Regions from separate parts of the Homo sapiens genome. Here regions 1, 2, 3, 4 and 5 are each reported to be linked to region 6. The links are microRNA targets in miRTarBase. Many come from high-throughput screens and were not tested one by one. Region 6 holds a microRNA gene; each other region holds the end of a gene's coding sequence.

What was found. The annotated mature microRNA hsa-miR-548c-3p reads CAAAAAUCUCAAUUACUUUUGC and lies in region 6 at 3,626-3,647, shown strand. An mRNA with a match to its seed (bases 2 to 7 or 8) in the 3' UTR can be bound and repressed. Matches are read on the target gene's strand: a 7mer-m8 pairs with bases 2 to 8, a 7mer-A1 pairs with bases 2 to 7 and ends in A, and an 8mer does both.
Region 1: the mRNA of ZNF99 is a reported target of hsa-miR-548c-3p. Seed matches in the 3' UTR shown: 7mer-A1 at 2,052-2,058, 7mer-A1 at 1,349-1,355 and 7mer-m8 at 377-383.
Region 2: miRTarBase lists EMC10 as a target of hsa-miR-548c-3p. Seed matches in the 3' UTR shown: 7mer-A1 at 4,823-4,829.
Region 3: miRTarBase lists TWIST1 as a target of hsa-miR-548c-3p. Seed matches in the 3' UTR shown: 7mer-A1 at 1,779-1,785 and 7mer-A1 at 2,085-2,091.
Region 4: the mRNA of SF3A1 is a reported target of hsa-miR-548c-3p. Seed matches in the 3' UTR shown: 7mer-m8 at 4,254-4,260, 7mer-A1 at 2,701-2,707 and 8mer at 2,206-2,213.
Region 5: the mRNA of DPY19L1 is a reported target of hsa-miR-548c-3p. Seed matches in the 3' UTR shown: 7mer-A1 at 1,494-1,500, 7mer-A1 at 1,901-1,907, 7mer-A1 at 2,669-2,675 and 7mer-A1 at 3,314-3,320.

The regions. Positions count from the first base shown.
Region 1 is chr19:22,752,856-22,757,929 of GRCh38, forward strand. It overlaps ZNF99 (zinc finger protein 99), which reads right to left. Exons shown (of 4, transcript NM_001080409.3): 4 at 1-5,074. The coding sequence ends at 4,459. Among named protein-coding and RNA genes, the nearest start is that of ZNF99, 29 kb to the right of the region's middle.
Region 2 is chr19:50,481,542-50,486,615 of GRCh38, forward strand. EMC10 (ER membrane protein complex subunit 10) reads left to right here. Exons shown (of 7, transcript NM_206538.4): 7 at 608-5,074. The coding sequence ends at 718. Among named protein-coding and RNA genes, the nearest start is that of MYREM, 4.8 kb to the right of the region's middle.
Region 3 is chr7:19,112,549-19,117,622 of GRCh38, reverse strand. TWIST1 (twist family bHLH transcription factor 1) reads left to right here. Exons shown (of 2, transcript NM_000474.4): 1 at 1-952; 2 at 1,492-2,155. The coding sequence starts at 302. The coding sequence ends at 910. It overlaps LOC124901597 (a long non-coding RNA gene), which reads right to left. Exons shown (of 3, transcript XR_007060241.1): 2 at 4,956-5,074; 3 at 4,378-4,868. Among named protein-coding and RNA genes, the nearest start is that of TWIST1, 2.6 kb to the left of the region's middle. RefSeq lists enhancers at 1-697, 721-980.
Region 4 is chr22:30,329,826-30,334,895 of GRCh38, forward strand. SF3A1 (splicing factor 3a subunit 1) reads right to left here. Exons shown (of 16, transcript NM_005877.6): 16 at 2,163-4,870. The coding sequence ends at 4,769. Among named protein-coding and RNA genes, the nearest start is that of TBC1D10A, 5.4 kb to the left of the region's middle.
Region 5 is chr7:34,927,192-34,932,265 of GRCh38, reverse strand. DPY19L1 (dpy-19 like C-mannosyltransferase 1) reads left to right here. Exons shown (of 22, transcript NM_001366673.1): 22 at 537-3,385. The coding sequence ends at 693. Among named protein-coding and RNA genes, the nearest start is that of MIR548N, 11 kb to the left of the region's middle.
Region 6 is chr12:64,618,944-64,624,017 of GRCh38, forward strand. It overlaps MIR548C (microRNA 548c), which reads left to right and starts at 3,566; the gene lies at 3,566-3,662. All of the region lies in intron 1 of RASSF3 (Ras association domain family member 3), which reads left to right. MIR548Z (microRNA 548z) reads right to left here and starts at 3,662; the gene lies at 3,566-3,662. RefSeq lists an enhancer at 2,488-2,647.

The DNA.
Region 1 (5,074 bases), not on the chromosome of region 6:
TAATGCACAAAAATATATTCCTCAGAACACCTACCTCATACATCACTCAATATTTTAAGTTAACCACAAAAAGCCTCTCCATTTAGATTTTTATCATGCATTTTATATTTTAATATCCTTTCTCTTTTATGAAAAAGGTCATAAATAATGCCCATCTAATAAAAAAGAATCTTTCATATCTCTGATGCAGCAACAATTGATCGCATGCTTTCACATGTAAATAAAGTAGGAATGAAGAGCATGAAGTAACTTGAGAGTTGAATTACATCCTTATTTGCTTTTCAGAGTCTGTAATTTTTTTCAATATTGTGATGTTAATTTTTTTGATATTTGAAGTATACAAAAAGTATACTTCAAATGTAATTATAATTCTCCAAAAAATCACCTCCTCTTTTTTAAGTTATATGCAAATAACTTATCTAAATTTTAGATTGAAATTATTTTTTTTACTCAACACTCTGATTTAGTGTAGTCTGAAGTGCCAGTGCCTTATCATTTCTACTGTGAATTCTCTGACATTTACAGAGTTAATTTTGGATTGAATATTTTTCATATTTACTGCATCTACAAAAAAAACTTACTCTGTTTTCTAAGCTGTAGTTTATAAACTTTTTTCCAAATTTATTACATTTGCAGGTTTTTTTCTCTATTATACATTCCCTGATATTGAACAAAGTTTGAGCAACTTTAGGGTTTTTCTCTAGCACAAAATATGCACAATAAGATCTGTGATACAAATATAGTACTACAACCGTCTTTATATTTGTAATGTTTGTCATCAAAAGAAATACTCTTCACCATTCTAAGGTTTATATTTTCTAAAAGATATTCTCACAGTAATTGCATTTTTAATATTTGTTTTAAGTATAAACTCTGTGATGTTAAGATGTGAGCAGATATTAATGGCTTTTCCACATTCTTCATAGGTGTACATTTTTTTTCAAGTATAAATGCTTTCCTATGCGATAAGGTGTGAGTATTGGTTAAATATTTTGCCACATTCTTCATAGTTTTCTCTAGGATAAATTAGCTTATACTCAAGTGTGACAACCATTTAAAGGCTTTGTGACATGACTCACATCTAGGGCTTCTTGACACTATGATTTCTTTTATGTTTAGAAAAGTTTAAGGTGTTCTCAAGAGCACTGTCATGTCTTTTAGGTTTGTAGAGCTTCTCTCCAGTATGATTTGATAACTTATTAAAAACTTTGCCACATTCGACCGGGCTCAATGGCTCATGCTTGTAATCCCAGCACTTTGGGGCACTTTGGGAGGCCAAGGCGGGTGGATCACTTGAGGTCAGGAGTTCAAAACCAGCCTGGTCAAAATGGTGAAACCCCGTCTCTACTAAAAATACAAAAATTAGCTGGGCGTGGTGGCAGGCGCCTGCAATCCCAGCTGCTTGGGAGGTTGAGGCCAGAGAATCGCTTGAACCCAGGAGGCGGAGGTTGCAATGAACTGAGATTGCACCATTGCACTCCAATTTGGGCGACAGAGTGAGACTCCATTTCAAAAAAAAAAAAAAAACTTTGCCACATTCTTCACATTTGTAGAATTTCTCTACAACATAAATTATCTTATGTGTAATAAGGGTTGAAATGTTTTTAAAGCTTTTGTCACATTCTTCATATTTATAAAATTTATCTTCTGTATGAATTCTCTTATATTTAGTATGAGTTGAAGACCAGTTAAAGACTTTGTTACATTCTTCACATTTGTCGGGTTTCTCTTCAGTATGAATTATCTTAATGTGTGGTAAGATGTGAGAAATGGTTACAGTGTTTGCCACATTCTTCATATTTGTAGGGCTAGTTTCCATTATGAATTATCTTATGTTCAGTAAGGTTTGAGGACGTTAAAAGCTTTGCAACATTCTTCACGTTTGTAGGGTTTCTCTTCAGTATAAATTGTTTATTAAGAATTGAAGAATTAGGCTGGGCACGGTGGCTCACGCCTTTAATCCCAGCACTTTGGGAGGCCGAGGCGGGCAGATCACCAGAGGTCGGGAGTTCGAGACCAGCTTGACCAACATGGAGAAACCCCGTCTCTACTAAAAATACAAAATTAGGTGGGCGTGGTGGCACATGCCTATAGTCCCTGCTACTCGGGAGGCTGAGGCAGGAGAATCGCTTGAAAACCCAGGAGGCGGAGGTTGCAGTGAGCCGAGATTGTGCCACTGCACTCCAGAGCCTGGGCAACTAGGGCGAAACTCTGTTTCAAAAAAAAAAAAAAAAAAATTGAAGAATGCTTATGGCATTATTCACATTTGTAGGGTTTCTCTCCCATTGAATTATGTTGTTTAGCAAGAGTTGAGGACTGGCTAAAAGCATTGCCACTTTCTTCACATTTGTAGGGTTTTTCTCCAGTACGAATTTTCTTATGTCTAATAAAGTTTAACTGATTAAAAGCATTGCCACATTCTTCACATTTCTAGAGTTTGTCTTCAGTATCAACTATTTTCTGTTGAGTAAGGTCTGAAAACCAGTTAAAAGCTTTGCCACAGTTTTCATATTTGTAGGGTTTCTCTTCAGTATGAATTATCTTATGTTCAGTAAGGTTTGAGGACCAGTTAAAAGTTTTGCCACACTCTTCACATGAGGCGGGTTTCTCTCTAATTTATCTTATATTCAGTAAGATCTGAGAACCCGTTAGAAGCTTTGCCACATTCTTCACATTTGTAAAGTATCTCTCCAGTATGAATTATCTTATGTTCAGTAAGTTTTGAGAAGCAGTTAAAAGTTTTGCCAAATTCTTTAAATTTGTAGTGTTCCTCTCCAAGATAAATTATTTTATGTTGAGTAAAGTTTGAGGACTGGTTAAAAGCTTTGCCCATTCTTCATATTTGCAGTGTTTGTCTCTACTATGAATTATCTTATGTTCAGTAAGATTTGAGGACTGATTAAAAGCTTTGCCACATTCCTCACATTTGAAGGGTTTATCTTCAGTATGAATTATCTTACATTCAGTAAGATTTGAGGACCAGTTAAAAGCTTTGCCATATTATTCACATTTGTGGAGTTTATCTTCTTTAGGAATTCTCTCATTTTGAGTAACAGCTGAGCAATGGTTAAAAGCTTTGTCACCTTTATTATATTTGTAGGGTTTTCCTCCAGTATCAATTATTTTATGTGTATTTAAGGTGTGAGGACTGGTTAAAGGCTTTGCCACATTCTTTACATTTGTGGGGTTTCTCTCCAGCATGAATTGTTTTCTGCCTATTAAGGCTTGAGGACTGGTTAAAAGCTTTGCCACATTCTTCACATATGGAGGGTCTGTCTCTAGTATAAATTATCTTATGTGTATTAAGGTTTGTAAAATGGTTGAAAGCTTTGACACATTCTTCACATTTTTAGGGCTTCTCCCCAGTATGAATTATCTTATGTTTAGTAAGGGCTGAAAGATGGTTAAAAGCTTTGCCACATTCTTCACATTTGTAGGTTTTCCCTCCAGTATGAATTGTTTTATGTTGAGTAAGGTGTGAGGACTGGTTAAAGGCTTTGCCACATTCTTCACATTTGTAGGGTTTCTCTCCAGAATGAATTATCTTATGTTTAGTAAGGTTTGAGGACTAAATGCTTTACCACACTCTTCACATTTGTAGGGTTTCTTTCCAGTATGAATTATCCTATGTTTAGTAAGGCGTGAGAAATGGCTAAAAGCTTTGCCACGTTCTTCACATTTGTAGGGTTTCTCTCCAGTATGAATTGATTTATGTTTAGTAAGGTGTGAGGATTGCTTAAAAGCTTTGCCACATTCTTCACATTTGTACGGTTTCTCCCCAGTATGAATTATCTTATGTTTCATAAGGGTCGAGAAATTGTTAAAACCTTTGCCACATTCTTCACATTTGTACGGTTTCTCCCCAGTATGAATTATCTTATGTTTCATAAGGGTTGAGGAATTGTTAAAAGCTTTGCCACATTCTTCACATTTGTAGGGTTTCTTTCCAGTATAATTATCTCATGTTTTCTAAGGGCTGAGAAATGCTTAAAAGCTTTGCCACATTCTTCACATTTGTAGGGTTTCTCTACAGTATGAATTACCTTATGTTCCATAAGTTTTGAGACCACTTAAAAGCTTTACCACATTCTTCACATTTGTATGGTTTCTCCCCAGTATGAATTATCTTATGTTTCCTAAGGGCTGAGAAATTGCTAAAAGCTTTGCCACATTCTTCACATTTGTACGATTTCTCCCTAGTATGAATTAGCTTATGTTTCTTAAGGGTTGAGGAATTGTTAAAAGCTTTTCCACATTCTCCACATTTGTAGGGCTTCTCCCCAGTATGAACTGCTTTATGTCTAGTAAGGTGTGAGGACTGCTTAAAAGCTTTGCCACATTCTTCACATTTGTATGGTTTCTTCCCAGTATAAATTATCTTATGTTTCCTAAGGGTTGAGGAATTGTTAAAAGCTTTGCCACATTCTTCACATTTGTAGGGTTTCTTTCCAGTATGAATTATCTCATGTTTTCTAAGGGCTGAGAAATGTTTAAAAGCTTTGCCACATTCTTCACATTTGCAGGGTTTCTCTCCATATGAATTACCTTATGTAAAGTAAGTTTTGAGGACCACTGAAAAGCTTTACCACATTCTTCACATTTGTAGGATTTCTCTCCAGTATGAATTATCTCATGTTTTCTAAGGGTTGAGGAATTGTTAAAAGCTTTGCCACATTCTTCACATTTATAGGGTTTCTTTCCAGTATGAATTATCTTATGTTTTCTAAGGGCTGAGAAATGCTTAAAAGCTTTGCCACATTCTTCACATTTGCAGGGTTTCTCTGCAGTATGAATTACCTTATGTACAGTAAGTTTTGAGGACCACTTAAAAGCTTTACCACATTCTTCACATTTGTAGGGTTTCTCTCCAGTATGAATTATCTCATGTTTTCTAAGAGTTGAGGACTGGCTAAAAGCTTTGCCACATTCTTCACATTTGTAGGGTTTCTTTCCAGTATGAATTATCTTATGTTTCCTAAGGGCTGAGAAATGGTTAAAAGCCTTGCCACATTCTTCACATTTGTAGGGTTTCTCTTCAGTATGAATTACTTTATGTCTAGTAAGGTGTGAGGAC
Region 2 (5,074 bases), not on the chromosome of region 6:
TGGAGACTGGTGTTAGGTTGTGGCACAGGAGCCCAGGCAGGCCAAGGCCAGCGAAGAGGTCTGTGTGGCCCGAGGCAGGCTAGGAGGATGCTGAGGCTGGGATGGCTGAGCCCTGCTGTGCTGAGTGCCCTGCCTGAGGGCCTCACCCGCTCCGCCTGGATAGTCCAACAGTTGTGCTGCAGGGAACTGAGGCCCAGAGGCTGAGCCCTTGCCTGCTGGGCCCTGCCCTGCTGCCCACTCGAGCGCCCTCCCACTCCCTGCTGGCCCTCAGGCCCCACGGCAGCCCACTGGCCCTGACCTGCGCTCCCTCCCTCCCCAGTGGCACATCATCCTGGGGGGGGCCGTGTTGCTCACAGCCCTGCGTCCTGCTGCGCCAGGGCCCGCGCCACCGCCACAGGAGGCCTGAGTGAGGACCGAGACCCCTGCCCCTCCCTGCGCCCCACTGGCCCTCCCTGACCTGTAGTGACGTAGGGGACCTGGGCGCCCTCCCCTTACGCGACCTCCCCTCATGCCGGTCCCCACCGTGGGTGGGTGATGCCCACACTCACCTCCTTCCCCTCTCTCTCTCTTTCTGTGTCTGTCTGTCCATCCTTCCGTCCGGCTGCAGTGGATGTACATCATTCCCGTCGTCCTGTTCCTCATGATGTCAGGAGCGCCAGACACCGGGGGCCAGGGTGGGGGTGGGGGTGGGGGTGGTGGTGGGGGTAGTGGCCGGTGAGGGCCCAGGCTGGTCAGCGTCCCGTCTTGCACACCCAGGGGCCTCCCTTTCTGCTGGAGTCCCCTGTGTCCTCAGCCATCCCAAGAAGGGTTTGCTGGTCCCTCCTTTCCCCCCGTCCCACGAGGCCACCTGGGCCAGCCCCTTGTCCTCTGCCTTCTGCTGGCAGAGGAGCAGCTGGACTGGGGCCTTTGGCACAGCAGCCGGTGTCTCCTGCGCCCGCCTCCCCCATGGCCCCATGCAGCCCCAGGGGCTTCCCCCCTGCCCATGGAGTAGAGCCCGAGATCCTGGCCACTATGCCAGTTCTGACCTCGCATCCCCCTACCCCGAGCCCATGCAGTCTGGGAACATGCCGCCTTCTCTCCAGCCTCTGTGCCTTTGTTCCAGGTGGTCTCACCCTCCTGTCCCTGGCTGGGCTAGGTGGTCCTGTCCAGGCTCCTGCAGCGCCCCCCTCACTTTGACACTGGACTAGGATGCAGCCTCCCTTCTGTGTCCCCTTGAGGGTACCCTGGGTCCCCTCATCAGGGGCAGAGGCATGAAAGAGTCGGGGCTGGATGGCCGGGGGCTTCTGGGCCCGACGCCTAGTGCAGCCCCTGGGGTCGTGGTTTGACATTTGTCTGCCTGGTGCAAACAAGGAATCCTTGCCTTTAAGGTGACAGGCCCTCCACAGGCTTCCAGACTTGAAGGAAAAGGTTTAAGAAAGAAAACAAAACCAACAGTTAGTGGAGTCAAAGCCCAGACACTGTAAATAGAACCCCCTCCACCACCCCCCGCCGCCCAGCATCCTACCTGGACTGCGGTGCTACGAGGGCCTGCGGGCCTTTGCTGTGTGCCACCCTCCCTGTAAGTCTATTTAAAAACATCGACGATACATTGAAATGTGTGAACGTTTTGAAAAGCTACAGCTTCCAGCAGCCAAAAGCAACTGTTGTTTTGGCAAGACGGTCCTGATGTACAAGCTTGATTGAAATTCACTGCTCACTTGATACGTTATTCAGAAACCCAAGGAATGGCTGTCCCCATCCTCATGTGGCTGTGTGGAGCTCAGCTGTGTTGTGTGGCAGTTTATTAAACTGTCCCCCAGATCGACACGCAGCTAGCCTCCTGCATTGTATGGTTATAAATAGCACCCTAGTGAGTGCTGTCGTCCAGTCTCTCTTGGGTGTGGTTTGAATGATCTCGGGATGCATGACTAAAATGGAATTACGATGGCAGATCGGAAACGCGTTTATAAACAAGTGATGGTTTGTGAGTCGACTGTCAAGACCAGGAGGTGGTGCACCGTGGGAGGTTGCCTTCCCTCCCATCACTTCTTTTTGTTTTTGAGTCAGGGTCTTGCTCTGTTACCCAAGCTGGAGTGCAGTGGCGGTACCTTGACTCACTGCGACCTCCACCTCTCAGGCTCAGCGATTCTCCCACCTCAGCCTCCTGAGTAGCTGGAATTGTAGGCGTGCACCACCACGCGCAGCTAGTTTTTGTATTTTTTGTAGAGACGGGGTTTCACCATATTGCCCAGGCTGGTCGTGAACTGCTGGACTCGAGTGATCCACCTGCCTCGGCTTCCCAAAGTGCTGGGATTACAGGCGTGAGCCACCGCGCCTGGCCTATTTTTGGTAACTTTAATAAAGAAGATAGTCTTAGCATTGCTAACTTCTGTTTCTTTCTCCACCTGCAGGAGATAGCTTATGCTTTTTCTGTCTTCATTCCATGTGAATCCTGCTTCATTCTTTTCCTAGAGGATTCCAGAAATATTTACTAATGCTTTTTTTTTTTTTTTTTTTTTTTTTTTGAGGCAGAGTCTCGCTCTGTCATCCAGGCTGGAGTACAATGGCACGATCTCAGCTCACTGCAACCTCCGCTTCCTGAGTTTAAGCGATTCTCCTGCATCAGCCTCCCAAATAGCGGGGATTGCAGGCGCCCGCCAACACACCTGGCTAATTTTTGTATTGTTAGTAGAGACAGGGTTTCACCATGTTGGCCAGGCTAGTCTTGAACTCCTGACCTCAGGTGATCTACCTGCCTCAGCTTCCCAAAGTGCTGGGATTACAGGCATGAGCCACTGCGCCAGGCCTACTGATGCTTTTTGGGAAGTGTTCCCAACTTGGAGTCCTGGTCCCTGTGTCTGATCTGCAGATGTCTTCTACCCCGGCACTGGGGGAACATCTTATTTTTCCTGGGTTAAACATTGGGATCTTTATAAACCTGATTATGTCCTTTCCCTCTAAGTCTCGGTTGCTTTCAGGCTGGCAGGGTTACTCTGTTGGGTATTCCAGGAAATGCCTGAGCTCCTTCAGGCTCCCCTAGCGTTCTGTTCTTATTAAACTTTTCTTCCCCGTCTGGCCGGTCCTTGGGGAACCCACTCACTATTTTATTTTATTGACCGGGTTATCCAGGGATGAAGTATGAAACTCAAAAGATAGAGTAGGTTGGCCAGGCATAGTGATTCATGCTTGTAGTCCCAGCTGTTTGGGAGGCTGAGACAGGAGGATCGCTTGAGCCCCAGAGTTCGATGCTTCCTGAGCTGTGATTGAATCACTTTACTCCAGCCTGGGTGACAGAGTGAGACCCTGTCTCCAGAATAGACAAAAGATGCAGTGGAATCCACGTCCAGAAACTGTATGCTCACTCTGGGCTCCAGCACCCACTTCCCCTCCCTGGAGGCAGCCTGAGTTTTCTGTCCCCTGGTATGCTGCAGATACTCTCCACAGAAACAAGCAGATGCACATGTCAACAGTTTTGCAAGTGTTGCTCTTTTCCCCCACCTTCTTTTGACATAGCTGGGGCAGTTTCCATCTCTGGTATAAGGTGCCATCTTATTCCATCTCTGGTGTAAGAGTGTGTTGCTGGATTTGAGTAGTTCTAAGCAGCACTGCAGGAGTCCCCCTGTTCTGCTGCATCATTTTGCACACATATGTGTCTGTGGAAGACATGGCCCGGTGGGGCCCCACCTTGCTGGGGGAGAGGGATGTGTGTGTGATGGTGGTGCATGCTTCCCCCTTGCTACTCCAGGTGTCTGCCCCATCCCTTCACCCTGGAGGTTCCAGACAGCCCCTCTTCACCAGCGATTCCCCAACTCATCTCCAGCTCAGATCCCACCCCTGATCTCCAGACTCATGGCCCCAGCTGCCTCCTGGGCTCCTTCCCCAGGATGTGCCTCAGGGGCCACTAAAGGAGCCAGTGCCTCCCACCTGCCCGGATCGGGTGCTCCTCCAGGGATCTTTGTTCCAGTGAGTGGTGCCATCACCTGCCCAACCTCATGGACCAGAGCACTGCCCTGTCCCAATCACGTTCTCCTATGCACCACCATACCTACCCCTAAAGTTCTTCCTGGCCTCATCCCGTCACCTCTGTCTCCATGGCCTTGGTCCCAGCTCAAGCCTCGTCCTCTGCCACCTGGACCATCGGCCCAGCCTCCTCTTTGGCCTCCCAGCCCCCAACATCCCCCCCTCAGTCCATCCCCCTAATGGAGAGCTTCCTGACACTAGAGCTGACCTCACTACTCCCCTGCTCACAGCCCTCCGCGTGGCCTCTCACCTCCCCCAGGATAGAGTCCCAACCCATCCTTCTGTGTCTCCTCCTCTCTGTGTCCACTGTCCTGACCCTAACTCAATCCTCATTCTCTGCCTCCTGGACCCTCATCCTAGCCTCGTGACTTCTGGTCTAAGATGTGAGAGCACCTGGCAAGGTAAATGCTCCAGGAGGGGTTGCTCCCTCCCATTTCCTGCCACCAGAAAATGTTATCGGCTGCGTGGCATTGCGAAAGCCTTCCTCTTCCCAGCCTAGGGTTTCATGTGGGCATTTAGGTGCTCCCAGTACATAGTTGCATGGCAAACAATCCTAAAATATACAAGACTACATTTAGTATTTTGTAAAATTCTTTACTAACCCCAAATTGTCTACTGGAAACTATAGGCTCCTTTTTTTTTGGTGGGTGGGGGGCAGGTGTGTTTGTGGGATGGAGTTTCACTTGTCACCCAGGCTGGAGTGCAGTGGCTCAATTTTGGCTCAATGCAACCTCCACCTCCCAGGTTCAAGCAATTCTCTTGCCTCAGCCTCCTGAGTAGCTGGGATTACAACCGTGTGCCACCACACCCAGCCAATTTTTGTATTTTTAGTAGAGACCGGGTTTCACCATGTTGGCCAGGCTGGTCTTGAACTCCTGACCTCAAGCGATCCACCTTAGTCTCCTAAAGTGCTGGGATTACATGTGTGAGCCACCGCCCCTGGCCTCTGTAGGCTTCTTTAACCCATCAGAGAGACTCCCTGGTAAGGATTAGGGGCTAATTACTGGTGCCTCTTCAGCTGTCAGTCCATCCTCCTTTATTTGTACCCACCTTCCAGTCAGCAAGGCACAACAAT
Region 3 (5,074 bases), not on the chromosome of region 6:
TCGCGGGCTCTGCAGCACCGGCACCGTTTCCAGGAGGCCTGGCGGGGTGTGCGTCCAGCCGTTGGGCGCTTTCTTTTTGGACCTCGGGGCCATCCACACCGTCCCCTCCCCCTCCCGCCTCCCTCCCCGCCTCCCCCGCGCGCCCTCCCCGCGGAGGTCCCTCCCGTCCGTCCTCCTGCTCTCTCCTCCGCGGGCCGCATCGCCCGGGCCGGCGCCGCGCGCGGGGGAAGCTGGCGGGCTGAGGCGCCCCGCTCTTCTCCTCTGCCCCGGGCCCGCGAGGCCACGCGTCGCCGCTCGAGAGATGATGCAGGACGTGTCCAGCTCGCCAGTCTCGCCGGCCGACGACAGCCTGAGCAACAGCGAGGAAGAGCCAGACCGGCAGCAGCCGCCGAGCGGCAAGCGCGGGGGACGCAAGCGGCGCAGCAGCAGGCGCAGCGCGGGCGGCGGCGCGGGGCCCGGCGGAGCCGCGGGTGGGGGCGTCGGAGGCGGCGACGAGCCGGGCAGCCCGGCCCAGGGCAAGCGCGGCAAGAAGTCTGCGGGCTGTGGCGGCGGCGGCGGCGCGGGCGGCGGCGGCGGCAGCAGCAGCGGCGGCGGGAGTCCGCAGTCTTACGAGGAGCTGCAGACGCAGCGGGTCATGGCCAACGTGCGGGAGCGCCAGCGCACCCAGTCGCTGAACGAGGCGTTCGCCGCGCTGCGGAAGATCATCCCCACGCTGCCCTCGGACAAGCTGAGCAAGATTCAGACCCTCAAGCTGGCGGCCAGGTACATCGACTTCCTCTACCAGGTCCTCCAGAGCGACGAGCTGGACTCCAAGATGGCAAGCTGCAGCTATGTGGCTCACGAGCGGCTCAGCTACGCCTTCTCGGTCTGGAGGATGGAGGGGGCCTGGTCCATGTCCGCGTCCCACTAGCAGGCGGAGCCCCCCACCCCCTCAGCAGGGCCGGAGACCTAGGTAAGGACCGCGCCGCTGCACCCCTTCGCCTCTCAGGTGGCAGACGGCAGGCCGGCCAGGCCGCGGTTCCCAGTCCACCTCGATTTCCTCCCCTCTCCCACTCTCCGCTCAGCCTTCCCACCTCACTTGGCACCGTTGCCTCGCGCCCCCAGCGTCCCCGGAAGGCCGGTCTGACCCCGCTAGGGAGAGCAGTCTCCAGGGGGATGCGCCCTGGTGAGGGGTGTGTGTGCGCGTGAGTGTGCGTGACAGGAGGGGAGACAGAGACACCCAGGGTCACGGGTAAGGACCGTTTTGTCAGCGCCACCCTTTCTTTCGGCTTTCAATTTTTGTTCTCCTTAAAACAAATGTTTTAAAACAAATTCCACCTCCTCCTCCTTTCCACCCACCCACTTCCTCTTGCCCTTGGGCTGAAATCCTTCCAGGTTGTTCAGCTTAATTTCTCAGTGGTGGTGATAAGAACAGTGCTCACTAGTCTTAGAAAACAGCCGCAGAGACCTAAACAATAACCGACTCCCCCCCCCCCCTCTGGGTTTTTGCAGATGTCATTGTTTCCAGAGAAGGAGAAAATGGACAGTCTAGAGACTCTGGAGCTGGATAACTAAAAATAAAAATATATGCCAAAGATTTTCTTGGAAATTAGAAGAGCAAAATCCAAATTCAAAGAAACAGGGCGTGGGGCGCACTTTTAAAAGAGAAAGCGAGACAGGCCCGTGGACAGTGATTCCCAGACGGGCAGCGGCACCATCCTCACACCTCTGCATTCTGATAGAAGTCTGAACAGTTGTTTGTGTTTTTTTTTTTTTTTTTTTTGACGAAGAATGTTTTTATTTTTATTTTTTTCATGCATGCATTCTCAAGAGGTCGTGCCAATCAGCCACTGAAAGGAAAGGCATCACTATGGACTTTCTCTATTTTAAAATGGTAACAATCAGAGGAACTATAAGAACACCTTTAGAAATAAAAATACTGGGATCAAACTGGCCTGCAAAACCATAGTCAGTTAATTCTTTTTTTCATCCTTCCTCTGAGGGGAAAAACAAAAAAAAACTTAAAATACAAAAAACAACATTCTATTTATTTATTGAGGACCCATGGTAAAATGCAAATAGATCCGGTGTCTAAATGCATTCATATTTTTATGATTGTTTTGTAAATATCTTTGTATATTTTTCTGCAATAAATAAATATAAAAAATTTAGAGAACCTTAGAGTTTGGTCTATATTTTTAAAACTAAAGATTAAGTTGGTGGTAAATACCTGCTTGTTTAATTCTAGAGGCACCCAGGAGGGAGGGGGCACTAATATAAACAAAGCAATGAAAAACTCAAATAAAGCAGCTACTGACAGGCACAAGCATGTTATTTTAAAAGACAGCTTTATTATTATTCCAGTTTGGTATTCAGAGGGCTTAGTAGCATCTCTTCATCTCTTACTGTCTCCAAACAGCAAAAACTTAACAAATTTGCTATTCACCTCCTTTTTATTTTGAGGTGATAGTTGTTAAAACAGTTAAATGCAAATAAGGAGTATAAAACCTGCACTATTCTCTTATTATGTACTTTTTGTCATGCTCTTCACTCTTTGTGAAGATTCCTAAATAACAGGTTCTTTTCAGTGAAAACATATATAGTGTTATGAAAATTATCTATACACATATAGAAATGACCAGAAATGCATAGAAAATAAAGTGTAAATCAGCAGAAAAGAGAAAATTCCATTTGTAATTTGCTTAACTCTTCTCTCATGAATGAATATGACGTTTAGTGTCATGTTTGCTAAAAAGAAAAGTTAATATATCGCTATATTGACGCTATTTGGGAAGCATCATTCTTTTTTTATGTGTAAAGAATATAAGGCTGTGGAATAATATACAAAAATGAAGATCCTGAACTTTCAGTATCCTTGGTAACTGGATATAATCACAGTTGGAATAATCACAGTTTTAAATACTACAGCTATGCAGTTACTAGTCAGTTCATTAGCGTTATATTTTATCCAGAATTACACAGAATTTTTCCCTGGTGAGATCATACATACACACACACACAATCTGAAGTTAAGTAAAACAATAATGGGCAAACGGGGGTGTTTGATTTTTTATTTCATTCTGATTATTTGTGGGCCAGGAACATACTGGCTTTTATAATTAACATTATTAGAAATAGTGATTTTGTATCAGTTCTTAGCTTTTACATCCGATTTACTGCATCCAAGTGTAACTGGGGAAGCTTTCAAACTGGAAAATCATTTTGGTGCCTGTTTCAAACAATGACTAATAAGTGTATGTATCCAAACAGATCGTTTTTGCTTAGCTCAGGTCAAAGTTATTTTATTGCCTGAAGGTTTTTGTTTTCTTCTTCACACAGCACCATAGAATGCTGACATAAGAATATTATGAATTTATTGTTAATATTTCAGACTATATTTTACAATAAGGAGTCTGCAGCATTGACTTGTATTAAAAGGTTAGTGAAAGCTTGGAGAAGTATTATTATTTTTTTATTTTGATAGTCCTTTAGCAAATAACAGAAAGGGAAGGCGATTATGTGTTGGTGTATTTGTTGGGGGTGTGTGTGTGTTGTGTGTAAGGCAGGTTAGAAATGTAAGGAGGGTGCCCTAGGAGGATGAGGGAAAGCATTAGGTTGGTAATTCTTTTTTGTATGTATCATCCAACCACCTCCATTTTCTAAATTATTCATGGGGAGTCTCCTTGTTCACTAGCTTGGTCTGACTATTTGATATTTCAGATTTCTTAAGGTACACCAGGATGGAGCTGGCCATGACTGCTGAGAAGGTAATTGTTATCTTAACTCTGGATATAAGAACTAGATGTGTCAAAGAAAGGTAGCTCTCCATTTGCCTTTCTTTTATTTCTTTCTTTTTTTAATGTGTTTTGCTTTTTCTACTTTTTTCATAAGGGGAAACACTTTGGAGAAAAGCAAATGCCATATTTATAGTAATATTAAATACTAATCTGAAGGTAATGTTTCCCCCCAGATTTTCAGAGAAATAAATGAATGAAAAAGGTGGTAATTTTATTTTGAATGAGGCGACTGCACAATGAAAAATATTAACTACTGGAATGCAGTTTCCAGCTTGCAGATTCTAATCCCTACCCCTGTATACACAAGACATAAATCGTGAAATTCTTTTTTAGAATAGAAATGAAGCCACCTGTTTCTTTTCCTCCACCATTATATCTTCTTTTGATTTTATGTTATTTCATTTTATTTTTGCTACCTACCCTTATTTAAAGAACACATAGAATGAATTACCTCTTGTTTTCGGAAATAAGAAGCTAAGGCTTTCCAATTAATGTGTTGGTTCACTTGGGATCTTTTTCCTTCAGAATGCATTTGCTAGGGGAAAGTATTGTATTAAATTGTCTTGGGTAAATTGTAGAAAATTTAATGTTTCCTTTACTGTGCTATTGATTACTTTTATTTATAAGTTGGTCAGATTGATAGCCTTTAGTTATAAGAAAGCAGTAATTTTTTTACCCATATGCACATTTCCCCTTTTGTTCACAGAAGCACATGTCCAGATGATAATTCACGCACAGTTACAGGTTCCCCTCCCCAAAGTGGAACGTATTATTAATAAAATAATGTTAAGGAGCAGAAACTTGCACGATGTGTGTAAATTTTTTCCCACACTCAACAACGGCACAAGCTTCTTGACCCTTCGGTCTTAAGGTTCATATTCATAATGGAGCTTTTTAAGGGACATTTGGCCTCTTGCAAAAAAGTAGAGCATTTTGCACATTCCATGGTTTGGCAAAGTCAGAACTGGTTATTTTCTCTAGACCGGTATCAAGTTCTTCTCAGGCATATGATTTCACTTGAAGTCCTGCCCAGGAATCCTTCAAAGTGAGCGTTTGTCCCGCTCTCATGATGTCAGGCGGTTTTCCCTGCATCTGTAATTTGAAGAAAAATAAACAAACCTGCGGGGAACAAACGCCACGGAAACCCAAACAGAACTCCGTGGGGAGCGAGGGTCTCACCTGCGGCAGGCGCGGGAGAGGGGCACGGGCACGGTCTCCCCTGCGTGGGTGGCGGGCCCGGCTCGCGCGGTGGGGAGAATGACGATGTCCGTATCTCCTTCGGTTTGCGTGGAAGGCCC
Region 4 (5,070 bases), not on the chromosome of region 6:
CAACAACTGGGTGTCCTTGTGTGAAATTGCTAACTTTTGTATTTTTTTGTAGAGATTAGGTCTTACTATGTGGCCTAGGATGGTCTTGAACTCCTGGGCTCAAGTGATCTTCCCGCCTTGGCCTCCCAAATTGTTGGGATTACAGGCGTGAGCCTCCATGCCTGGCCAAACTCCAGAGTTCTTTATTTAATACACCTATAATGAGCCAGACATTAGTGCAGGGGTGTCCAACCTTTCGGCTTCCCTGGGCCACACCGGAAGAAGAATTGTCTTAGGCCATACATAAAATACACTAACGATATAGCTGATGAGTTAAAAAACATTGCAAAAAAAAATCTCATAATGTTTTAAGGAAGTTTACAAATTTGGGGCCGGGCGCGGCTCATGCCTATAATCCCAGCACTTTGGGAGGCCGAGGAGGGCGGATCATGAGGTCAGGAGATCGAGACCATCCTGGCTAACACGGTGAAACCCCGTCTCTACTAAAAATACAAAAAATTAGCCGGGCGTGGTGGCAGGAGCCTGTAGTCCCAGCTACTCGGGAGGCTGAGGCAGGAGAATGGCGTGAACCCGGGAGGTGGAGCTTGCAGTGAGCCGAGATGGCGCCACTGCACTCCAGCCTGGGCGAAAGAGCAAGACTCTGTCTAAAAAAAAAAAAGAGAAAGTTTACAAATTTGTGTTGGGCCACATTCAAAGCTCTCCTGGGCCATGGGTTGGACGAGCTTGCTCTAGTGAATAAGAGAGATGAAGTCCTGGCCCAATAGAGTTTATAGTCCAGTGGAGGAGGGACAACATGAACAAGCACAGAACATCTATCAGGTAGTGAGAATAAGAAAATAAAGCCAGGTAAGGTATGGAGAATGCTGGAGTAGGTGTTGGGGAGGTGGTATGGGCTGAAAATGAGGGACCCCTTCTGCAGGACTGAGAATAGTGTACAAGCATGGCAGCAGATGATTTTCCCCTTGAAGGAGAAGGAGGCTGTGTTGTTAGATTGGAGTGAGAAAGCAAGGGCAACAGTGAACCAATGAATAAATGATCAGAAAGGAGCCCTGCAGAATCACGTGGTTCACTGGAATAAAGAATTTAAGAGGCCTTAGGCAATGCTGTGGAACATCCTGGTGAACTGGCTGTTGGAGACATTCTTTTGAAGATAGAATGTGTTGATATCCCAGAGTCTCATCCTGCTGGGGTCATTCCCAACAGCTGGGCTTGAGGATCTCACATAGGCCCCTCTCCTGGATCCTGGAATGTGCAGTTGGCATGTGCTCAGGAAACCTGTGAGCACTGGCCATGAGCAAAAGTCCAGATGCCCTTTTTTTTTTTTTTTTTTTTTTTGAGACGGAGTCTTGCTCTGTTGCCCAGGCTGGAGTGCAGTGGTGTGATCCTGGCTCACTGCAACCTCCACCTCCCGGGTTCAAGAGATTCTCCTGCCTCAGCCTCCCAAGTAGCTGGGATTACAGGCACCTGCCACCTGTTATAACAGTATTCTCTGTAATGATCTATTTTAATTTTAATTTAAAAAAACTTTTTTAGAGATGAGTTCTCACTATGTTGTCTAAGCTGACTTTGAACTTCCTGGCTCAAGCAATCCTCTTACCTCAACCTCCCAAGCAGCTGGAACTACAGGTGTGTCACTGTGCCTGGCAGGAGTTTATCTTGTCCTGCTTCATGGACTGTAGTGTCCAGGGGTACCTAGAATTGTTCACTTACATGCTGGGAGCAGTGTCAGGGCATGGTGTCAGGGAACTCACCAGGCAGTGTTCTTTTATATAACAATGCAGCCTTTTTTTTTTTTTTTAGACAGAGTTTCAATCTTGTTGCCCAGGCTGGAGTGCAATGGTGCTATCTCAGCTCACCACAACCTCCACCTCCTGGGTTCAAGCGATCCTCCTGCCTCAGCCTCCCAAGTAGCTGGGATTACAGGCATGTGCCACCATGCCCGGCTAATTTTGTATTTTTAGTAGAGACAGGGTTTCTCCATGTTGGTCAGGCTGGTCTTGAACTCGCGACCTCAGGTGATCCGCCCGCCTCGGCCTCCCAAAGTGCTGGGATTACAGGTGTGAGCCACTACACCTGGCAACAATGCAGAATTAAAAAAATGTAACAATACAGAATAGTTAACAGCAAATCTCCATATCTGGTAGAGTTAATGATCATAACTCTTAAGATCTTACATTTTGCTTTTATTTTTAAAAAGTAAACTTCTAAAAATCTTATACACTGGTATGTGTACCCATGAGTAGAGCTATATTATGCTTTCTTGTCTAATTACAGGGATAAATGAAATATGATTGCTAATAGTACATGTATTTCCATTCAAGTATATATCCTAACATAACCCAATATAACCATTTAATATATTCTCTAATACAATATTATTAATTTTAAAGTAAAATGGTTCTGATCATTACTGGCCTCCTCTAAGAGTACATGACAAGTACTTAAGTAGTGGGTAGAACTGAAAGTGAAATTCCTTAATGTCTACAATTCCTGGAGCCCTCTGCATGCAAGTCTTCAAAATTATGGTGACTTAAGTCCCACACCACCTGTTTTCCCAGCAGTCCTGCAACAGGAGCACTTATTCCTATTTCATAGTGTGGTCTGGTGGAGCAGAGCAGTGTGGTCCCCAGGAAGGGATGAGCTGCTTTGGCTTTCCAGAGCACTCACTGGCTACATGACCTTGGGTATTCCACCTCGTTTTAAAAATGGGGCAGATAATCCTCAGGAGATTGCAAGAAGAATCAGAAAAGCTGTGCAGAGCAGCTTTGTATTATAAACACTAGGACGCTACCTACATGCTGCAGGTCCTAAACTAGTGCAGTGCCAAGCAGCACACTGGGCCTGTGGCCACTGATGTTCACAAGGCCTCATGGTCAATGGAGCTTCTGCATCTGAGCGAGCCAGTACAGATATTCATTCAGGAGCTCCAGGAAACTGGATTTGCTCTCTAGAGGGCAGCTCAAAGGGCCCATTCACTCACAATCCACCCAACGGCATTCCTGGCCTCCGGTCACAGCCTCAGCCACGGAAGTCCTGCAGGGTTTGCCAGTCTGTGGGGGTGAGTGCCCTAACACCATGAACTGCCCACTGCTCCCAGAAAGAAAGAAGAACTTGGAATATGAGACTCCCCAGGTCTCCTGACCCTCTTCCTTCTTGGAATGAGACCCAGGTAGTGCTCAGGGGATTTCTGGTGTTGGCCATGGACAAGCAACCAGTAGTGGGCTCACTTTAGGGACGCAAACCACAAAGCCCACCTCAGGAAGCCAAATTTCAACTCTTGCCCCTGGGGCAAACTTCTAGCAACCAGGCCAGAGGCAAATGTCAGACAGGATAAGGGATGACATCCCATCAATCAAGTTGAAAATGGGAGGGACCCAGCAGTTTGTAATAAAGCCATAAAACTGGTACTGACTCTGGGTGAGAGGGAGAGGCAGGGTGGTGACTAGAGAGCTGGTTCTGTGACCTTGGGAAATGGTCTCACCCCTCTGAGCCCTGGAGATGACCTGATGGGGCAGCTAGGAGGTCCAAATGGAAGGACTGCAAATAAAAGGCACTGGGAACTCTCAGGGGCCACACACATGTGAGATCTTCCCAATAAAATCAGCCTTAGCTTTAAAACCAGGAAATTGTTAGCAACAGGCTCTCACCTTCCTCCAACACCCACAGCATTGCCTATCTCCCTGTGATAGCTTGATTCTAAAGATAACAGCCTGCCTTTACTCAGAAACCAGGACTGTGACGTGTTTTGCACACATTCTCTTTTCACTTTCACAGTGTGTGACTATGGCATGCAACTTATGTTCTCTGTGCCTCAGTTTACTCAAGTGTTAAACAGGAATACTCACATGAGGATTACATGAGTTAAAATGGATAAAATGGATAAAAGTAGAGAGTAAATTATTTAAACTTTATCAAATCCTTGGTACATGACCTTAATACAATTAAGTATTTGTTAAATACATACATTTTAAAGAAACGTCATCATATCCACACACCTATGAGGCACCTGCCCAGGACCACAGAGCCAATCAATCAGGTGATGAGTGATTCCAGGCCAGCAGGAAACCACCGCCCACTGACACAGGGACTGCACCATCCATCCTTGGTTTGCATGGTGCCTGCCATGCTTCCTGTATTACTGTTAAATACATGGGGCAGGCCTTTGGAGGATCCCAATGTTTTAAAAGGGCAATACGAATATGATTCTAATACATAAAAAGTATGAGGGCAGCAAGAATTTAGTTACAAAACCCAAAAATCCTCAAAGAGAAGCCACATAGCACTGTGCAGTGTTACCACTGCCTCGAGTCTGGACAGGGCACAGGTGACCGAGACAAGTCTTATTTAACTGATTTCACAAGAAGGGTCCGAGTTTTATTAGACAACCCATGTCAAGGTACAAAATGATTAATGACAATATCAGCCATATTCTATTAGCCAAGTGCCACCTGTCACTATGAAACTATCCTGTAGGACATCCCTGGGCTCTCAGTTGCTAATGGGCTGCTGAAGAAATGAATGTCCTCAAATCGAGACCCTAACACAAAGAGATTCCAGAGAGTGGCTTAGAAAACCCAGCTACTCTTACCAATGTGGGGAAAGGGTCAGGGGAATGAACCTCTGCAGGACAATTTGAATTCCCAAACTGAGTAAGAGCGAAACAAATATGCAGGCAAGGCAAAGCCTCAGGGGGGCTCCTGGGTCTGGGGCAGGGGGTGGGAGACAGGAGAGGCAAAATGGCAGGGACTTGACAGCAGGTTCCTCTTGTCTACTTCTTCCTCCCGCCTCTCTCCTTGAGGGCCAGGTGGATGACTGCGCCATTGGCCATGTTGTAGTAAGCCAGTGAGTTGGAATCTTTGATGAAGATACCCTGGAAAACAGACAGCGTGCCTTAGCATGGGGCAACCCAGCCTTGGGGATACCGCTGCAACCTTACAACTGTGCACTTGGTCTGTTTGCGCTCTGGACTTAGCAAATACAGGAGCTTGTGAGAAGGTAGGGTGTTGGGGACTGGAGGCCTCTCATTCCTCCCACTGTTTCCTTTCTTCCCACCAATTACGCTCCTCCCCT
Region 5 (5,074 bases), not on the chromosome of region 6:
TTGGAACATACCCCATTGTAAGTTGAGGAGCATCTATACAATTAATGCAGCTTCCCTGTGAACTAAGCATATTTGTTCATTATAATTTTTTAAATCAATGTCATACGTTTTTCTGTGTGAATGGTGCTAGATACCTGGTCTCTCATAATCCTCACAACAAACCTATGTCATGGTTGTTTATTTCCCCATTTTACAAATGTGAAAACTAAGACCAAGGGAAGCTACCTGCCCAGAACCACATTCTTGATAAGTAGCTGAGGCAGAGTTTAACTGAGGTGTCTCTTTCCGCAACACCTGGATATATGTATCTACAGGTCTGTTTCTTTCCTTATAGTCACCTTTGCTGCATTGACCTTGTCCTAAGGTGAGTCATGGCAGCTTATAAAAACATAAATAGCTATGTAACAGGATTGTTTAAAAACTAAAGTAATTTAAGGGGAAAAAAGGAATTGAGGTCAGGAATGTAAGAAGTGCTCTGCTTTCTCTGCAGTTATATAATGCATATTGATTTTTAACATGTACATTCATTTTTCTAGGCCTGGTTGCAGTATGCCTGAAATTTGGGATGTAGAAGATCCTGCCAATGCTGGGAAAACTCCCTTATGTAACCTCTTGGTGAAGGATTCCAAACCTCACTTCACCACTGTATTCCAGAACAGTGTTTACAAAGTCCTAGAAGTTGTAAAAGAATGACTGCTACATGACCTGCTGCCTACGGAGAACTACATCTGTAATGGTTTTAATGTTTTGCTAAGTCATGTGTTGTTCATATCCCAAAAACTTTTATAGGTAACTGTTTTCAAATAGAAAACGTTTTATTTGGTCAATTTGAATGTCATTCTAATTATAAAAATGACTTACACCTTTATCAATTGGTTACTATTTCAATGCACCCTTTAAAATTTGCTATGCAAATGAGTATATGCTTGTACTTGACTTTAATATTTGTGCTAAAGTGAGCAAAGCTACCTGTATAAAGAAAACACAGTGGGTTGTGACAAGGATGACATGAAAATACAGGACAATTCTGACAATGTAGGGGCTGATTTTATAGTGTAAGAACTATTAATGCCCCTTGCTTCTTTTTTCTGCCTCTTGCTCTTGTCTTTTGGACATTTCAGTGATTGTAAGTTCTTCGGTCATGTCAGCCCCTGTCATCAACTTGAGTTACAGTAGATGGGGCAGACATGGAGTGTTTGCTATATAGAACTATCTGTTTGTTTTACTTCCTTGTGCGCTTTTTGTTCTCTGTTCTCTTGTTAATGAAGCTTTTCCTGCCCATTATTAATCCAAACTCTTGGACCTTGTGGTTAGGAAATTCCCTTAACTTCCAGCCATATGGCATTATCGTGTCTCTTTCTCTCTCTCTCTTGCTCTCTCTCTTCTCCTCTTCCCCATATTTTCTGTCAAATAAGTACTGTTTACTCATTTAGTTGCTTATCAAGTACTTATTCTTGGTTTTAAAAAAAATTAATGGTAACTGTATTTTTCTCATTTTTAGCATTATTCAAATGTTTATATTTTAATACCTTTAAACCACTTTAAAGTTTTTTCATGTTTAATTATAGTTTTAAGAAAAACTATTTTGAACAACCCCAAATATAGTGCATCTAGAAACTAATGTATATTTGATTAGACATCATTTATAGTGGAACAGTAGACTGTAGTACATGGTAATTTTTCTTTTACTATTAAGATACAATAAAACATGACTAATTTTGCTGTCAAAAATGTAAAGAATAATGATAAATGGAGTTTTTATATTTTACTTTTAAGATTGCCTGTCTTTAATAAGACAAAGCCTTAAGCCTTATGTTATAATTTTGGTTCTAAAAACCATCATTTCAGTATAAGGAATAAGTATATTTCGTCCTCCTCTTTAGTTTTTTTCTTCCTATTTATTTTTATTTTGAAAAATTTCTACACCTTCTTTGAATTCCTTGTATGAATTTTTGTTTCTTAGAAGTTAATTTGTGTGAAATGAGATTCTTCAAAACGATGAAACCTCATAGCTCTGAGAAAAGGTTTTAGGGTTTTAAATTCTAAGCAAAGCGTGACTATGGCTGACAGACTACACATTTAATTATACAGCTTCTCTTTCTTAACCACAGGCAGATTAACCTCATTGTGGATTGTCCTTCAGACCTTAGTCCTCAGGCATGGTTTCTGGTGCCCACTCCTGGAAGCCGCTGTTCCCTTTCTACCTTCTTACCAGAGCCCAAGGGCAGGCCTGGTCCCGGGGAAGCAGCAGCTTGCTGACATAAGTCAGCTGCAAAGGCTGAGGAGTGTGCCCTCAGAGAAGCACCGCCCCCCAGTCTTGTGCCAGCGCCTAGAGCCGCAGCTCCCAGGGATGCTCCTTCCCTGGAGGCAGCCCAGGAGAGGGACTCTGGCAGCGTTCTTCAGATTTGTGGCCACTGTTTCTCATTTGCTGGTTGACTGTTTTTATTTCTTAGGCTTTTGCTAGTTTTAGAAAATAGGGAAGCAGCCCTTGATTTGTGGATTAAAAGCAACATTTGAGCGATGATGCACAACAGTCCAGGAAAATGGGCGGTGGACACTTGAGGCTGAGGATGGGAGTTGACATGAGCAGGGAGAGGGAGGTGCGCGCTGCTTATCTGTGATTGTTGCTCACCTGAGTGTGGCTGATTGTGTACATCCAGCAGTTACAATTTTTAAAAATTATACTTTTACATTTATTTTATATTTTTCTCACCCCCAGTAATTTCCTTCCAAAGAAGTTCACATGTAATAAGTAGAAATTCTGTATAGGAAAAAAGCATTAAAAATACTATTATAACTGCTTCATTTGCTGGGAACCATTAAAAGTAATATAAATTAGCTTTTTCCAGAAGGATCCTTTTGTAGCAGTGTTTATGAATGTAACCCCCAGCAAAATATGGCTATATATTAGGGGAGCCAGTTTGGAGCAGAGGCCTGAAGGTCCCTGCTATGCAGCCGTGGCCACAGCTCGCAGCCCAAGCACTGTGGAGCATCCACACCTTTGATGGCAATGCAGATTGGTAGCAGGTTCCATAGGCGTACAAAACAGTATTAAAGCTCAGTGTTTTGCATATTGTTAGCATTTACAAATATTTTTGCTTTAGTATGAGGAAAGTAAGGATGGGCAAAGAAGCGATCAAAATAGCTATTGCTACAACATTTTCGAAAACAAAGTTGGGGCTGTATTTCTTTAAAAAGATAAGCCTCTAAAAATGCTTGGCAAAAAAAATATAGTGTTAAAATAGGCCAGTGATATTAATGAGAAAATGAAAGTATGTATCAGGAATAAAGTGATATTGCATAGGAGTATTGTATTTTTATGAATTTTATGCCAGTTGTTTACATGTACTATATATGTTAAATTAAAAAAAATCATGAGTAATGAGGGAAGTGTTTTTCTTGATTGTTATTTTCATTTTCACCTTGATTGTGATCAAGTTCAGCCTCGTTTTGTAGTCAGATAGCCATGAACTGGTTTGAGTCAGATGGCAGTCCTGAGAAGAGAGGGAGGGATCATAAACAGTGGGGGTAGACTCTTTGGTCTTGTTGTTGGTAGTGGTAGGTACTGAGGTTATCCAAACTTTTCCTGTATTTGTGGTAGAGTCACTTACATTCCTTTTTTATCCTTTTCATCAAGGGACACAGTAATTCATTCAAACTATATATTGGGAATAATTAAAGGGTTGCTAAAAGCTGTTTTAATGTATTTAAAACATACATTGGTATCAACATTTTCTAAATTGTAACTCAATGTGTTTACTTGATACAAACATCAACTCTTGGTTCTTTCTCTATGTAGGAAAGACATTTCAGCTCTGTTCATTCCTGTATAATTTCTTAACACAATGACACCTTGATTCTGACATCTTTGGGGAGTGAGGTGTTCTAATACAGTGGTTCTCAAAATTAGCAGGCATCAGCATCACCTGCAAGGCCTGTAGTTTGCTGGGCCCCACCACAGAGGTTTCTGTTTCAGTTGGCCTATGGTGGGGCCCCAGAACTTGGATTTCTTAACAGTTCTCAGGTGGTGTTGATGCTGTTGGTCCAGGGACCATACTTGAGAGCCTCTGCTCTAATCGATGGGAACAGACTGGCTGGATGACTGGCCTCCAGGGGGCGCTCCATTCCTGACAGCACATCCCGCCAGAGCTGGTTGATGGACACTCTACCGGGAGCTGAATTTTACCACGTACCTTCTTTGCCTGTTAAGGGCACTGCTTCAATGAAACTTGCAAGGAGCAAAGAACAGATTAGGTAATTTTTAATTGGAACACTGATATGAGTTATAGGTTATTTAAATATTTTGAAGCTGCAAACTGCCCCTTGTTTCTTTTCAGTTCAGAGATGGAAAAGGAGTGAAAATCCTTGAAATAGAACTTCCTTTTGTAGGATTACTTTGCCTAGAAGACAATAGATAAATTCAGTGATGTGTGGGGATTGCAAAAATTCATTTTCCACTTTATTACTTTCGTTTTGGCACCAGAAATCCGAATCTTCTTCCTTTATTAGAGGTCAGCCAATAATCAGCGCTAGGTCACAGATTGCTTGCTTCTCTCTTCTTCCTCCTTTTTCTCCTGCCCCCAGTTAGAAGTTTCTAATTTGAATCAATAAAATTGTTCTCAGTGCAAAAAAGGAGCTACTTTTAAACTTCATTACATTCCTGATGTGGTCTTTATTTCACAGCATTGTATCAGGACAAATACGTTTTACATTAGAAGTTGAAAAGGATATTAAGGTACAAAAAGGTCTTGAAAACTTTCCTTTTACATTTCCTCCCGTGAGAGAGATTTTAAAATTCTGAATGAGCATATAAGAGTTGAAGACTCGATTTGATTGTAGTGTAATTAAGAGATAGTTTTCTTTTTTTTTGGCAAAGAGATTAGGATAACATTGATACTGGCTTCACTTTCAAAGCAATGTTTTCTATAGTTTTCTATACACAATTATCTTTAACCCAAAACTCTAAGTATGCACAGTGTTGTCAAAATGACTTTCAAATAAATGGTAGCACTACATGGTATTCTGCTTCATAGGCATGTTCTTTTAAATGCAGCATAATATCATTTCATTAATT
Region 6 (5,074 bases):
ATGTAAAATATGATAATTAAAAAATTGCAATTACATGTTGAAATGATAATATTCGATAATATTTGAGTTAAGTAAATTTAATGTTACTTATTTTTTAGCATGGCTATGGAAAACTTAAAATTATGCATGTGGCTCGCATGATATTTTTGTTGAACAATGCTGTTTGCTGAAGCAGGGCTGGCAGCCCTTGCCAGAGGTTTGAATCTCCATTGTCTTGGTGGCTGCAGATGGATGGATGTGGGGGTACCAGCCTGGTGTGTTGGGAAGATTTTTCTTTGTGAAGGGGAACTTGCCCTTTACTGTTGGGGATAGTTTCTTCTCAGCCTATCCAGGGACACACATACCAGCATTTTGGGGTTGTGAAACTTTTGTGTGGGGAACTTCCCTTTTTTTTTTCCACATGAGCCAATAAGATAAAACTGACCTAATGGCATTCTCGGTGCAACTCTGCCTTCAGTTTAAGGACAGAAGAGGGCTCATGTTTCATAGAGTATTAAAGGAGCAAGCTTAATATTTTGCATTTTGTGGACTGTAATTGCTAACTGCTGCTACATGATTCAGTCAGCTAAGAATAATTTACTAATTATATATTGCCTCACTTGGTTCTTTTTCCAGATGCTAAACAAGGTGAGATAATTAGAGGAGGAAAAAGGGTGAGTTTGGGAATTGGAGACCAGAAGGATGGATTTAGAAGATCTTGGAGTTAACGGACTTAGAATATAGTCAGCAAAGAGTTCACTTAAAATTAGTGCAGGTTGCCAGGCGTGGTGGCTCACGCCTGTAATCCCAGCACATTGGGAGGCCAAGGCGGGCGGATCACGAGGTCGGGAGTTCAAGACTAACCTGGCCAATATAGTGAAACCCCGTCTCTACTAAAAATACAAAAATTAGGCAGGCATGGTGGTGCATGCCTGTACTCCCAGCTACTCGGTAGGCTGAGACAGGAGAATCGCTTGAACCTGGGAGGTGGAGGTTGTGGTGAGCCGAGATTGCGCCACTGCACTCCAGCTTGGGCAACAGAGTGAGACTTTATATCAAAAAAAAAAAAAAAAGAAATTAGTGCAGGTTGACTGTGTGTGTGTGTGTGTGTGTGTAGTTTTCTGAATTCATTTTTCAAGTATTGAATATTCACAATGATGCTAGACTAAGTGCTAGAGATTTGGTGGTGAACGAAACAGATTGAAACCTGCCTTCATGGGGGGCGTATATAGGTTCGTCTGACTAGTCTAGATAAGTGAATTTGTGTAGTAATTGTTTTTTTGTAACTGGCTTAGTTTACTTAGCTTGATGTCATCAAGATTTATTCATGTTGGAGTATGTGTCAGAATTTCCTTCCTTTTAAAGGCTGAATAATATATCCATTGTATGTATATATCACTTTTTGTTTATCCATTGATTCTTCCATAGACATTAGGATTGCTTCCACCTTTTGGCTCATGTGAATAATGATGCTGTGAACAGGGGTGTACAAATATCTCTTAAAGACCCCTCTTAAAACTTTTTGCGATATATACCCATAAGTAACAGTTGCTATAGAATCATATGGTAATTCTGTTTTTAATTTTTTGAGGAATACTATACTGACAAATTTGAATCCTTATTTAAACCCAGGATTATGGAATACTGCTGCTTGATTTCAGCTGTCATTTTGTTGTCTACATTGTATTTTATTGAATTGGCGTTATTCCCAAATATTGGAAAATGTGGAGGTTTCTAATTTTTGCTACTGTAAATAGCACTAATAAATACCTTGAGCATGAAACCTTTTCCATTATGGATTAATTTTATAGGATAGTTGTACAAAAATGGAATTTTACTAATTATGAGGGTGTGACTTTTTATGATTCTAGTTATATATTGCCAATTTATGTCTATTTTTAAGTTTCATTACACCCTTACTTCCATTGGATATAGTCATTAAAATAGAGAAAAAAAACTTCAATAACTAAAGGCACCTTATTGCTATTTAATTTACATTCCTTTATTATTATTTTTTAAATTATTATTTTTTGAGGTGGAGTTTTACTCGTCACCCAGGCTGGAGTGTAATGGCGCGATCTTGGCTTACTGCAACCTCCGCCTCCCAGGTTCAAGAGATTCTCCTGCCTCAGCCTCCCAAGTAGCTGGGATTACAGGCGCCTGCCACTACGCCCTGCTAATTTTTGTATTTTTAGTAGAGATGGGGTTTCACCATGTTGGCCAGGCTGGTCTCAAACTCCTGACCTCAGGTGGTCCACCCACCTCGGCCTCCCAAAGTGCTGAGATTACAGACGTGAGGCACTGCGCCTGGCACATTCCTTTAATTAACTGTGAATTTAATACTTTTTAAATACTTCTGAGTAAATCTCCCTTGTGTGAGAATTGTCCATGCATGACCTTTGCCCATTTGTCTATTAGGTAGGCAAAATCTTGAGAGAGCACTGCTTGAGTCTGTGCATTTTTAGCTTGGTAGATGGTTCTGCTTTTTTGAGGTCAGCTGAACTTCAGGGTTTTTTTTGACTTACACTGTTTGTACCAAAAGGATATTACATATTCAGGCTTTCATTTTTTTAAGATGGAGTTTCGGTCATGTTGCCCAGGCTGGAGAGCAATGGTGCGAACTTGGCTCACTGCAACCTCCGCCTCCCAGGTTCAAGTGATTCTCCTGCTTCATCCTCCCAAGTAGCTGGGATTATGGGCATGCGCCACTATGCGCGGCTAATTTTTGTATTTTTAGTAGAGACAGGATTGATCAGGCTGGATGGTCTCGAACTCCTGATCTCCGGTAATCTACCCGCCTGGGCCTCCCAAAGTGCTGGGATTATAGGCGTGAGCCACCGTGCCCGGCCCAGGCATTTTGAAATACTTCAGAATGTGTTTCAGGCTGACATCACTGAAACTCAGAAAAATACTTATTACTCCTGTAGTTACAACATGGGAAAGGCATTGCTAAGAAAGCATCACCATAAATAAACCCGTGGGATTCAGAAGGTGGGGAGTTGGGTGATGTGTTTTCTACTAACCATGTGTTTTAAAAAAAAGGGTGACTAGAAGTTCCTGTTTATCTTTGAATTTCAATAAATTTAGGGCTTGTTTTCCAACCACTCTGGTAGAATTTAGAAGAACCTAACTTATTTATTTTTATCTTTTTGACAGTCTTGCTCTGTCACCAGGCTGGAGTGCAGTGGCGCGATCTTGGCTCACTGCAATCTCTGCCTCCCAGATTCAAGCTATTTTCCTGCCTCAGCCTCCTGAGTAGTTGGGATTACAGGCATGCACCACCATGTCCAGCTATTTTTTTTTTTTTTTTTGTATTTTTAGTAGAGTCAGGGTTTCACCATGTTGGTCAGGCTGGTGTCAAACTCCTGAGCTCGTTATCCGCCTGCCTTGGCCTCCCAAAGTGTTGGGATTACAGGTGTGAGCCACCGTGCCTGGCCAGTCCTAACTTATTTTGTAAGTATACTAGGTATTGAAAAAAGGATGGTAGGACAAACTGCTGGAAACCTTACCCACCAAAGATAATTTATACTGTTTACTTATAGGCTTACTGTCTTTTGTTGAAAAATTGCGATGAGAAAGGAATCGGCATTGGCATCTATTAGGTTGGTGCAAAAGTAATTGCGGTTTTTGCCATTACTTTCAGTAGCAAAAATCTCAATTACTTTTGCACCAACTTAATACTTTCAGGCTTGTTGAAGCCTAAGTAGAAAATTGTTGCTTAATCTCTTTTATTCTGATTAACTCCTACTTTAAATTTTTTCTTTCAGAATCTTTTTATCAAGTGAATCTTTTAAAAAGATGTGAAGAGTTACTTCTGACTTTATGATTGATAGATTATGAGCCCTCCTTAATCCCCAATTTCTTAATTCAAACAAGCTTACTGTGAAAATTTTCTTTTTTCTTTCTTTTTTTTTTTGAGATGGAGTCTTGCTCTGTTGCCCAGGCTGTAGTACAGTGGCACGATCTTGGCTCACTGCAACCTCCATCTCCTGAGTTCAAGTGATTCTTCAGTCTCAGCCTCCCCAGTAGCTGGGAATACAGGCGCATACCACCATGCCCAGCTAATTTTTGTATTTTTAGTAGAGACGGGGTTTCACCATGTTGGTCAGGCTGGTCTCGAACCCCTGACCTCAGGTGATCCGCCTGCCTCGGCCTCCCTGAGTGCTGAGATTATAAGCATGAGCCACCGCGCCCGGCCACCGTGAAAATTTTCTACAAATGCTTGTTTCGAGGAATCTTTTTTGATATTTTGCCAGCAAAGTCATAGGAGCAAAATTTTTTTAAATGAAAATAGAAAACAACATAGTTAAATATATCACGTAGGAGGAAAAGTACCAGTACCAAAATTAACTTTAGCATTTCTTAGTGTTTTACAGTTAACAGGGCATTCCAAGGGAATTAAAATTCAGTTGATTTTATTGGACTTTAATTTCAGAGGAACTCTGAGATGAGAAATTTAACTAGCACGTTTATCCGTTTAGGCCTTAAGCAGATGCAGGTTTCATGACATGCCAGAGGTAAATTTAGGGGTACTTGACTGTAGTGAGTAATTTCCCAGCTATGGGAAAATGTAAATATTATGTAGATGGTATAAAGAAACAATATTACGTTTGTCCATTTAAGGTCTGTTTCTGTTTGTTCAGACAGGCTTGTGGATTGCTTTTCTTGCCAGTGTTCCTTTAGGTGGAAGGTACAGCCCTTTCAGATATTTCAGAATTTTATTTTCTTTTATTTTTTTGAGATGGAGTCTCACTCTGTCACCCAGGCTGGAGTGCAGTGGCACGATCTCGGCTCACTGCAGCTTCTGCTTCCCAGGTTCAAGAAATTCTCATGCCTCAGCTTCCCGAGTAGCTGGGATTGCCAGCACCCGCCACCATGCCTGGCTAATTTTTATTTTTATTTTTTTAGTAGAGAGAGAGTTTCACCGTGTTGGCCAGACTGGCCTCAAACTTCTGGCCTCAACCGATCTGCCCGCCTCTGCCTCCCAAAGTGTTGGGATTACAGGGGTGAGCCACCATGTCCGGCCATATTTCTGTTTTAGAATTGCTTTCTTGCTTTTCCTCTGACCAGATTTGGTCACGTGAAACTGTCAATT